2 separate regions of the Homo sapiens genome follow, and region 2 is linked to region 1. Evidence: fine-mapped expression QTL. A gene starts in region 1. The other region holds a variant in brackets. All regions are shown on one strand. Distances are between the middles of the regions.

Region 1 (5,384 bases):
CTGGATGGATGGCAACTCCATTGGCTGAGATGGGAAACAGAGGAAGCAGACAGAATTTGGAGGTAAGCTGCAGGTTACATTGGAAATGAGAGTGAGACATCCAAACGGAGATGACAAAGAGGCAACTGGCTATATGGATCTGAGGTTCAGGAGAGAGGTTTGGGCTTTTGATATGAATTTATGACTCATCAGTGTAATGGGAACTCTACTGGAGAGAGTATACAGAGAAGATGGAATAGACAGAGACCCAAGGAGCACCAACTTTCAGAGAAATGAAAGAGGAAAAGCCTGCAAATGAGACTAAGGAACAGCTAGAGGTTACAGAAAGAGTTTGTACATTAAAATATTTGTACCCATTATTTGGGTCCTGTTATTGGAAACATGTTTAATCACAATTAAATGTGACTTGAAATTTATCTGTTTTAAAATTTATTTAAAAACGTTGTTTATATTTAAAAGAGGAACAGTAAATCCTCACATCGCAGGGTTATGAGGTTCAAATACAAAAAGTATTTGAAAATATTTTGGAAAGTATTATACCAGTGGTTCTCAAACTTTAGTAGTATATATCAAAATCATTTGGAGGGCTTGTTAAAACACAGATTGCTGTTTTTTTTAAAATTATTATTTCAGTAGTGGTAGTAGCAGTTTCTGATTCAGATCTGTGGTAGGAACCTAGAATTTTAATGTCCAAGTTCTCAGGTGATGCTGATGTTATTGGTCTAGGACCATCCTTTGAGAACCACTGTGTAATACAAATGAATTATGGTTTTGACTTTATAGCCAAATTCATTGAGTTTTCCTCCAATGTTAGTCTCTTTCTTCCTCTAATGCTGTTATTTCCTTACCTTGCTTCACACCTAGCAATATCCGTTTACACATGTGAAAGACCAACTTAGTGAAGTATTTTGTTGACTGTTTACAATAGTAAGCAACGACTTCAGGTTAGCTTAATTAAGGAGAATAGGAAAAATATATGGTTTTTTTTTTTATAGGGAGATAAGAAGGAACTCTTTGGAATAAGAGGTGGGATTTCTGTTTTCCCCAAAGTCAATTAGATGTCAAATGCTACTTGTTACCAACTTTCCAAAATCCCATTAGAGACCTTGTAATTTGATCCAGAGAGAACAGCATTAAGAGTCAGGTAAAAGGAAAAACTGACTTCATTCTTCATTCCTTTCCTAAATCCTGAGAAATGTGTATACCTCAACACTCCCTTTTCCAATCCCGCAAAACAGGGAATCAGGAAAACACATTAGCACCCTAGTACAGACTAGGAATACAGAGCTGGGAGGAGACTCAGTGCCGTCAAGACAAGGAAACTGGGGGAGGGGAAGGAAAACTTCCCCTCGTTGGACAATCTGAGGGCTGCAGTGGGAAGAGAAGGGAAGTGGGGAAATGTACCTCAGACGTCGGCCAGACACTTTGCCTCTGGGCATGTGGGAAAGTGAGGGAGGAGGGAAAAGCGCTGCACCACAGCGAGATAGCAACAGCTCCTGCGGCTGCTTTTGAGTGAAGATCAGTAGAGATAGAGCGTGCCGCTTCACATCTTCCTCCCGGAGGCCATTTCTCCATTTTTATGTGGGATAAAAAGGGGGCGCTGGGCTGAGTCAGTATAAGCCAAAGTTGCCGCCTCTTGCGCAGCCGACCCCGCTTCGGCCCCGGCCCAGGCCAGAGAGGTGGCCCTCGGAGATGCTGAAGTTACTCCGCGCAGGGGGAGGGGTCGCCAGGCTCCTCTCCAATCACGGTGGCCGCTCCAGCTATTTGCATACATTATGCTAATAACAGACCTCCTGCCCCGCTCCCACCCAAGCTTCCCGCCTCCCTTGGGGGTTCCCCGGGCCGGCCCGCGGGCTGGGCCAAGGTGAATACATTATGATAATAAGGCGGGCTCCTGCTTTGCCTTCGGAAGGGGGGCGCGCAGCAGCGGGAGCGGCAGGCCGGACGCCGGGCGCCGGGAGGGGGTCGGGGGAGGGACGTCGTGCTCGGAGCGCGCGCGCACTCACACACTCACACACACACTCACGCGAGCATCGCGAAGGGTATTTAAGGATCGCGCACGCGGGGCTGCGGAGATCCTTCGGGCAGCCGCGACTTCGGCTTCGCGAGTAGCATTGGTTCCTTGGGTTTATTTCGTTTTCCTCTCTCTTCTCCACCTTAGTCGCCCCTTTCGCGCTGCGCTGTAGCGTGCTCTCACAGCCTTTTTGCCTTGAACTGAATGCAGGTGGGAAACAGGTCGGCGTGCCGAAAGACACCGAGTAGGTAGAAATAAGGCAAACTCACAGAGGCGCAACAGGTCCGGTCCTCCGTGGCCAGGGCGAGCCGCGGCCCCGCGTGGCGCCTCGGCCGTTGCCCTCGGACCCTGAGCGGCCACTGTTGGGGCCCTCGAAAGAGGTGTCGGTCCTCTGGGAGTCGGAAGAGCTGTCTGGGTGGGTTTCGTCTTGCTTTTTACCCCACCGCCACCCAGTCCCCGGACGGAGGGTGCTTTTCACTTCCAGCTGGGAGGAGAGAAGAAAGCGGGGATGGTGCACGCCTGCGGGTCTGGACGCTGAGCAAGGCAGGGGTCCGTATCCGCTCGTGGGCTTGACTCCACCAACTAGTTGTGCAGCCACAGGGACTGAACTTTGGAGGAATCGACCTTTTTCTTTCCTTTTAGGATTATTTGAGGTGTAGAGGGTGGGAAGCGAAGCCGAGACGGCCGACCCCGCCACGATGCTGCTGAAGAAGCACGCAGGGAAAGGAGGGGGCCGGGAGCCCAGATCCGAGGACCCGACCCCTGCCGAACAGCATTGTGCCCGGACCATGCCCCCGTGTGCCGTCCTGGCGGCCCTCCTGTCAGTGGTGGCCGTGGTGTCTTGCCTGTACCTGGGTGTGAAAACCAACGACCTCCAGGCGAGGATCGCCGCTCTCGAATCCGCCAAAGGGGCCCCTTCCATTCATCTGCTGCCTGATACCCTGGATCACCTCAAGACTATGGTGCAAGAGAAAGTGGAGCGACTTCTGGCTCAGGTGTGAGAGGCTGGGGTATTTTGCACGTGGGTAACATCTTGTACAAGCGTGACTCTGTGTGCATGACTAGCCGCTACCCTTACTGTACCCATACTTGGTGTGGCTGTGTGTGTGCGCGCGCGTGCATGTGTTGGCCAAGGATCTATGCTCACTGTAGCATATATTTATATGTGCACATCCCTTGATGTCCCCATCCCTATCTCTAATCTTCCCTCACTCTCTCTTAATGTTTGCGTGTTAAACACATAGGAAGGTCTAAAAGGGTTCGGAAAGGGCATTTTATCTCTTTTTAGTTGTCCTAAGTCAAACCCAATTGTGGAGAGAATATTTCTTGCAGAGATAGCATCTGTTAAATCTTTTACATGTTGTAAGATGGTTAGGGTCATAGATGTTATTAATATATAAAAAAGGTAATCACTCTTAAATGTAAAATAATGTCATATATAATTTAAAATCAATAATTTCACACGTTGAATCTTTTCATATTAAAAGTTTAAACTTTTTTTTTTTAAAGTAGCTTTATTTTTGGTAAAGGATGCAGTGCCGGGGTATTTATGAATGCAGAGCCCTTGGAATTGAGAGTTGAGAGGAATCTATGTTATGTGTAAGGGTACCTTTAGACTAGAGTAAGGGGGTTTTCTGGAACCTTACCCTAGCCGGGAGCCTATTTGGCAGTAGTTGCAGCCTAGCATGATAAATAAAGCAGTTGACCTTCATGTATAAAATATTGGCTGTTATTGGTAAGCCACAGCTTACCTAATACTGCAACATTTTAGTGCTAGGTTTTTACATTGACTGCATATGCTTGAGCTGAGGGAGAGAGTGGTGGTAGAGAAGAATGGAGAAAGATGTTATACAAGTCCAGCAATCTTGATACCCTATCAGTGGTCATTTTCTTTTTTTAGGACTTAGGCATGGTTACTTTCTTGACTAGAGTCCAAGTACATATGTAAATGTTAGTTATGCAGGTTATGAAATGCCGGTAAATCAGGCGTATGGCCAGAGTCCCTAAAGACTCCATCCCTCTACAGTGCTACTGATGATTATTAATAACTCTTCTTTTCCTACAGAAATCCTATGAACATATGGCTAAAATAAGAATCGCAAGAGAAGCACCTTCAGAATGTAACTGCCCAGCAGGTAAAATGGAACTTATTTAACAAGGTTTCCTCCAGAGCAGAGCATTTTAAAACAAAGGTCCTGTGTCTGTCAAGTCTACCTGTAATAATAGTAAAGAAAGAATGCAGACCCAACTTGCTTTAATAAAATCAACATGTCTCATTCAAAAGGATGGCAAATAAAGCCCCAAATATTATTTTAAGCAGCATACCAAGGCCTGTTATGGGAAAGCAAAGGATATAATCACCAAAGAAAATATAGGCAAGGTGATGTACAAGGACAAACTTCTTAGATTCACAGATTGAAAAATATTCTTCAATTAAATTGTCTTAATGTCTACAGTGAAAAGGACTGTAGAACTGTTAGATTCTGAATTCCTGGCTCGCTCTTATTGTGTTAGTGCAGAGTTTTTTTTTTTTTTTGTTTTGGTTTATTCCCTTTGGCATACGTTTATGTTAGTAAACCACCTTCACTTCCTTTCCTGCTGTTTCTGTTCTATTAAAAAGATTCCATCTCCTATCCTATAGCTAGAGATGATGACTGAAAGAAAATGATTTCTTTATCTTGAGCTTCCCATTACAAACTCTTGCATTCTCAGTGACTTTTGAAGAAGAGGCTCTTATATTTTTACCTTTTTTTCCTGTGTAGCTTCAGGGAACTATATTAAAGGCAGCATATTAGTAGAAGGACAGAGAAGAAGGACATCATGAATAAGACCCCTGGGTAATCATTAAATCTTCCTTCATGGACCTTTGAGGGCTTGGTAGATATCTTAGACCTAACAATTTAGAAGCCCTTGGAATATGGCCATTGGAAACATCTAGTGGATTCAACTCATGTAAGTCATGAAAAACTCCCATGAGTTGAGATGTTTATTTCAGATAAACATTGTTAATACATTTATGAACATGATAGTTTCTTTTATCATCACTCATGGAAAGTGAGTCTCTTAAAATTTCTTTAGTATTAAGCAACATGATACTTAGGTGCTTATATATGAAAAGGCAAGTTCTTGTATTTTTTCATATTCTGAAACGTTTCCCCCTCATGATAACTTGTTTTGGCAGAGCTACACAAGGCACCACATTTAGAAATTTTAAATGTCAACTCCAGGTTGTACCTTATACAAATTTTACTATTTATATTCTGTTAAATTTTTGAACATAATAGAGCTATATCTTTAAAATGAAGCCCTTTTGATCGAGAAGACATATATGTTAGGTACCAGAAAAACAGAGTTAACCTTTGACAGTGTA
Region 2 (5,384 bases), 330 kb after region 1:
TATCAAGATAGTAAGATGAAGGTTCTATATTTCAAAAAACATCAAAAGCAAGAACTGGAAAAGTTTCCAATTTTAATGAAAATTAATTTTACCCACATTCTCTATTTAGGCACGGTATTCTTGCTGATGATGACCAAAGGCTCTCTTTTTTTTAAATGTAGAGTTTGTATTCCAATACCCTGTCCATTTTCATCCTGTTGCAGATTTTGAATTACGCTTTTTACCATTTGTTTCCAATAGTTTATTTCTTCCCATAAATAACAATGTGAACTCCAAACTCCATCATGTCAGCTCTTTGTCAGGTGAATTTCCATCATGAGACCTATATCATTTTCTTGAATATTTGGAAGTTTTAACTCTTTGACTCCCCAAGTGTCCAGTGGGAATAAATTAAGCCATAAGAGGTAAATCGAAGCTGGAAAAACTTGAAGATCATATAGAAATTAAGAATGTGAGACTATTTTTAAGTACTTGGACATATATTCAGCAGTATATATTGAGCAGCTACCATCTTTAAGATACTGTGCTTAATACTATAGACACAATAAATGTGTCCACTTATCTCTCTCTTCTACTAACCACCAAATTCAACTTACTTTCATGTTCTTGATTACTTCAGTGGCTTTCCAATTAATCTTTCTATTTCCACTCTTAACCTTATATAATCCATTTTCTACACAGCAGGCAGAGAGATCACTTGACATTGTAAATTAGATCATGTTACTCCTGTGTAAAACTTTAGAATGAAATCCAACCTGCTGTGCTTAGCTCTTGCCCATCCCCACCAGTTCATCTCACACTAGTCTTGCCTCCACCTACAACACTCAGCCACACACTGTCCTCCATGTCCTCTTCAGACACACTGCACTTTCACCCAACTCGACAGCTTTCCATTTGCCCTCTTCTGGTCTTCTTGTGATTGGGTTCTTCTTATCATTGAAACTTCATCTCAAATATCACCTCCTCTGAGAGAACTTCTCTAACTACTCAATCTGAACCAGAGATTATTCTATCTTGTTTATGTATTTACTTGCTCATTATCTATAAAGTATGCCCCCCTCCCTCCTTAGGTCCTATATTCCATAAAAGCAAGGTTCTTCTCTGTCTTGTTCATACCCCTTCACATAGAATAGTGAAGATTCAATAAATATTTGTTGAATGTATGAATAAAATATTGTTATATCATTATGGCCCTCAAGAAGCTGATAATTTCATGGGTACCTGAGTAAGAAAACTGTGTGGTTATATGTTATATCCCTCAAATAGATATACCAAGAGGTGCTAGAAAAGTGAAAATTCTTTCATTTTAAATGAGCACTGTCAACTGTGGAAGAGGTGACACTTGAGCTAGAACTTGATAAATTGGTAATCTTTAGGAGGATACACTGAAGAGCAAGACAGTACATATTCCAGGAAGAGGAAATAGTATAAACAATATTATCCAAGTAGAAAATGGCAGGATTTAGTTAAGGAACAATAATATTCCATTTGTGATTTTTAAAAATGTGGTATACACAATGGAATACTATTTAACCTTAAAAAAGAAGGGAATCTTTTCATTTGCCAACAGCATGGATGAACCTGAAGGACATTATGTTAAGTGAAATAAGGCAGGTACAGAAAGATAAATAACTGCATGATCTCACTTATATGTGGAATTTTTAGAAGTTGAATACATAGAAGTAGAGCATTTAATGGTGGTGACCCATGGCTGGTGGGGAGGGTTTTAGGAGATGTTGGTCAAAGGATACAAACTTTCAGTTAGATAAGAGGAATAAGTTCAACAGATCTACTGTACAGCAACGTGACCACAGTTAATAACAATATATTGTATTCTTGAAAATTGCTGAGAGTACATTGTGTTCTCACCAAAAAAGATAAGGATGTGAGGTAATACAAATGTTAATTAGCCTGATATAGCCATCGCATGATGTATACATATTTCAAAACAACATATGTAACAGTATATATATAATTTGTATTTGTCAATTAAAAGTAAGTTTTAAAAAGGACCCTAAAAAATAATATTCCATTTGCCAATAAGTAGGTTAAGTAAAATATTGTGTCATATAGATGGAAAATTTTGGATTGAAGTTATATTATGGAGCATTTTGAATGTCTAGCGTGGTAGGCATTAGAGAGCCATTGAGAATTTTGAGTAATCTGTGCTTATCTTATTTTGAGACTATCTGTGCTTATTACCAAATGTTCTTTATAAAAATATTTTAGAGGCCAGATGCAGTGGCTCACCACTGTAATCACAGCACTTTGGGAGGCTGAGGTAGGCAGATCACCTGACATCAGGAGTTCGAGACCAGCCTGGCCATCATAGTGAAACCCCATCTCTACTAAAAATACAAAGAGTAGCCAGGCGTGGTGGCGAGTGCCTGTAATCCCAGCTACTTGGGAGGCTGAGGCAGGAGAATCACTTGAACCTGGTAGGTGGAGGTTGCAGTGAGCCAAGATAGCATGATTGCACTCCAGCCTGGGCAACAGAGTGAGACTTGGGCTCAAAACAATTATTTTATATATATATATTTGGTGGTAGCATCTGCTATAGAATACAATTGGAAGAGACTGAAAGCAGGGTGACCAAGTAGACCAGGAAACTATGTCACTCATTTAGGACAAAGTCATAAGAATCTAGGCTGTACAGACAATGTCCAGTCCTCAGTGGAGAGGTAAGCAGAACGGATGAGCTGACTTAGCATGGAACATCAGGTATCATTGGAGGCAAGGACACATACTGAGTAGAAAGGTCAGTGTCAGAGTAGAATTTCAGCGGGGGTTAGGGAGAGAGGTGGAGTGGGAGGTGGTAAGTTGATGAACCAAGAAAGAGATTCCAAAGTGGTCACCAAAATACGGACAAAAGCTCCAATTTCACCATGAAAGCTAGGATATGAGTTTATTATTCTCACATAAAAAGAAGTTTGGAGAAGGCAGTTGATAGTGTTATGTATATAATTAAATGGTGTTACTGTTGATTCAATGATGTTACTAAGTCTGTGAATCTCTTGGCCTTGTCTCATGATTGCAGGAAGCCTGCTTCAAGTCCAACCATTGCATCTAGGCGTATATCAGCAGGAAGGATAGAGAGGAAAGAGTCTGAATCAAGAAAGCAACATTTTCCCTATGAACTTCTTAGTAGACTTCTGGTCATGTCTCATTGGCTAGGTTGTGTCACACAGTCATCCAAAAGCTGGAAGGGACAAGG[G/A]GAATAGGGCTGAAAGGGAACTTAGGTCATCCAATCAATAAGGTTTACCCCAAGTGCCAAGCAAACACCTGAGTAGACAAAGAGGGAAATCAGGGCTGACACTGATAGAGGAGCATTTGGTGAGGGAGGAGTCTTGAGGACACTTGAACAAGTGTCCCTATTCAGCTGACACTGAGGACCTGTGACCCTGGAGTTGTAGTCAGGTTAAAGTTTTTTTAAAAAGCAGTCAGGAAGTGAAATGGAAAGACGCTGAGGTGAAAATTCAAGACCAGTCTTGAAGCCAGTTGGATGTAGGGGATGAAGTTGAAAAAGAAGACAAAGATAGGGCTAAAGTTTCTGGCTTGATGCTTGATAAAATAGGTCAGAAGAAAGTTGGGAGGATAAGTGAGAAGATGGATTTTAATTATGTTGAATTCGTGATCTTGATGAGATATTTCATTGGAATAGTGTAACAAACAGAAACATGAGACTAGAATTCTGAGGCAGTGCCATAACTGGAGGTAACTGTTACACAGCTGAACTATCACAGAGGGAGAATTGAAATCCTGGAATTAGAAACATGGTAGGCAAAAGAGTAAGAAGAGTACTGCCCTAGAATAGAGTCTTTAAAAATACTCACACTTACGGAGTGGGATGAGGAAGGAAGGAGTGTCAGCAAAAGGAGAGCATTTGAAGGTAGAAGCAGGACACTGCATTGTGTGAACACCACACACAAAACTACTTAAAAAAAAAAAAAAGAGTGGCCAATATAATATTCTGAATAAAAAGAGAGCCTCAGGGATGAGGTCTTTCAAAAGCCTTTGGATTTGCTGTTTTGGAGTCATGGGCTATTAAAGGAATATCTTTTGTTAAGTAGTGAGAGTGGAAGTCAGATTGCAAGAAGTTAAAAGGTAATGGTAGGAAAGTTGACCGTCTTTGAATACAGTTGATGGCATATGATTTAATGCAGGAGAAAGTGGGCTAACTTTTCGGCATTAACTTTCTTTCAGTATACATTGAACCAATTTCAGGCCTACAGTTTTAGGTGTAATATAATAACCACAAATATCATTTGGTTTTATTCTACGAGGCACTGAGTGTTAGATTTCCACAAATGAATGCATCCTGACATAAGAATTGTACTTCCCGCCTTGATTCCTGGGGAGATGTCATTGCAGATTTGCCACTAATCTTTAATTCATTCTTCCAAACACTGCATTTCATTAGGCCTTTAGGCTTAGGGTTGGGATGGTGCTTTATCTGTGCTGTCGGTCACCACGCATAGAGTATCCGGGCGTAAAGAGATAATTGATTCTCTTTATTTCATCCTCATAGCTTTGTATTGCAAAGTTTTGAGGCTATGACTTTACCTTGTATTTAAGTAGAGATTACACAACCTGCTGAAAGGAAGTTGTCGGGGATTCCTAGGTTGAATAAGAAAGTTGGACTAGGAAATAAGACCTCACATAATAATTATAATTGCCTATAGCTTAGTCTTACAACTTGCTGGATACTTTTCTAGGTAAGTTGCATACATCATCTCTAAGCCTTACTATAGTGCAGAGAGATAGATTATCAGGGAGGAAAACGGGAAAAGTGGATGCAGTTGAGTAAAATGATTATCCACATGGGCTGAAGTCAGGCTGGACAGGGATCAAATTCTAACTACCACTATCTATGATTATGATCAGGATTAATAAAGTAGTATATGAAAAAATCTGTAATAAGCTCTCAACAAACCATACCTGATTTTTCTTCCCATATTTCATATGAGGAATATGGGGTAAAGTAACTTGCCCAAGTTGACATAAATTGTAAGTGGTAGAAATGGGATTTAAACCTGGCTTTCTCAGCTTCTAGTTTGTTCTGTTTTCAGTGAACAAGACTGCTTCCCTATCAATAAGGTAGTTGTTATAAAGTCATCAACATTAATGTGAAATGATAGGGGTTACAGAAATATCTGTGTTTGAAATAATAACAATAAGGATACTTTAATTGAGTTCCTAAAATACGCCAATCACTCTATGATGTCACACCTTATTTCAACAACCCTATGAAATACTTACTTTTATTATTCTCATTTAATGGATGAGGAAACCAAGACTTAGAAAATTTAAATATTTTGTCCAAAATAATAATCACTCACTGGCAGAACCAGAATTTGAACCTAGGTATTTACAGACTACATTTT

Alleles and levels. Alleles are on the strand shown, and positions count from the first base shown. SD is a standard deviation of normalised expression in the study named.
For the expression in left ventricle of the gene that starts at base 2,074 in region 1, G is the low allele of the variant in region 2 and A is the other (small effect, 0.36 SD a copy in GTEx).

What was found. PIP is the estimated chance that this variant, and not a neighbour inherited with it, causes the effect. A credible set is the group of variants that fine-mapping cannot tell apart.
Region 2: its variant is the best candidate, but not a certain one, in a credible set for the expression of COL25A1 in left ventricle (GTEx, PIP 0.83).

What each region holds. Positions count from the first base shown.
Region 1 is chr4:109,299,348-109,304,731 of GRCh38, reverse strand. It overlaps COL25A1 (collagen type XXV alpha 1 chain), which reads left to right and starts at 2,074. Exons shown (of 38, transcript NM_198721.4): 1 at 2,074-2,563; 2 at 2,657-3,009; 3 at 4,080-4,149. The coding sequence starts at 2,713. COL25A1-DT (COL25A1 divergent transcript) reads right to left here and starts at 1,697. Exons shown (of 3, transcript NR_160939.1): 1 at 1,405-1,697. RefSeq lists an enhancer at 1,220-2,002.
Region 2 is chr4:108,967,048-108,972,431 of GRCh38, reverse strand. The region is part of intron 8 of COL25A1 (collagen type XXV alpha 1 chain); the gene reads left to right. Among named protein-coding and RNA genes, the nearest start is that of ETNPPL, 210 kb to the right of the region's middle. RefSeq lists an enhancer at 2,041-2,210. The variant G/A (reference allele first, on the strand shown) is at 3,215.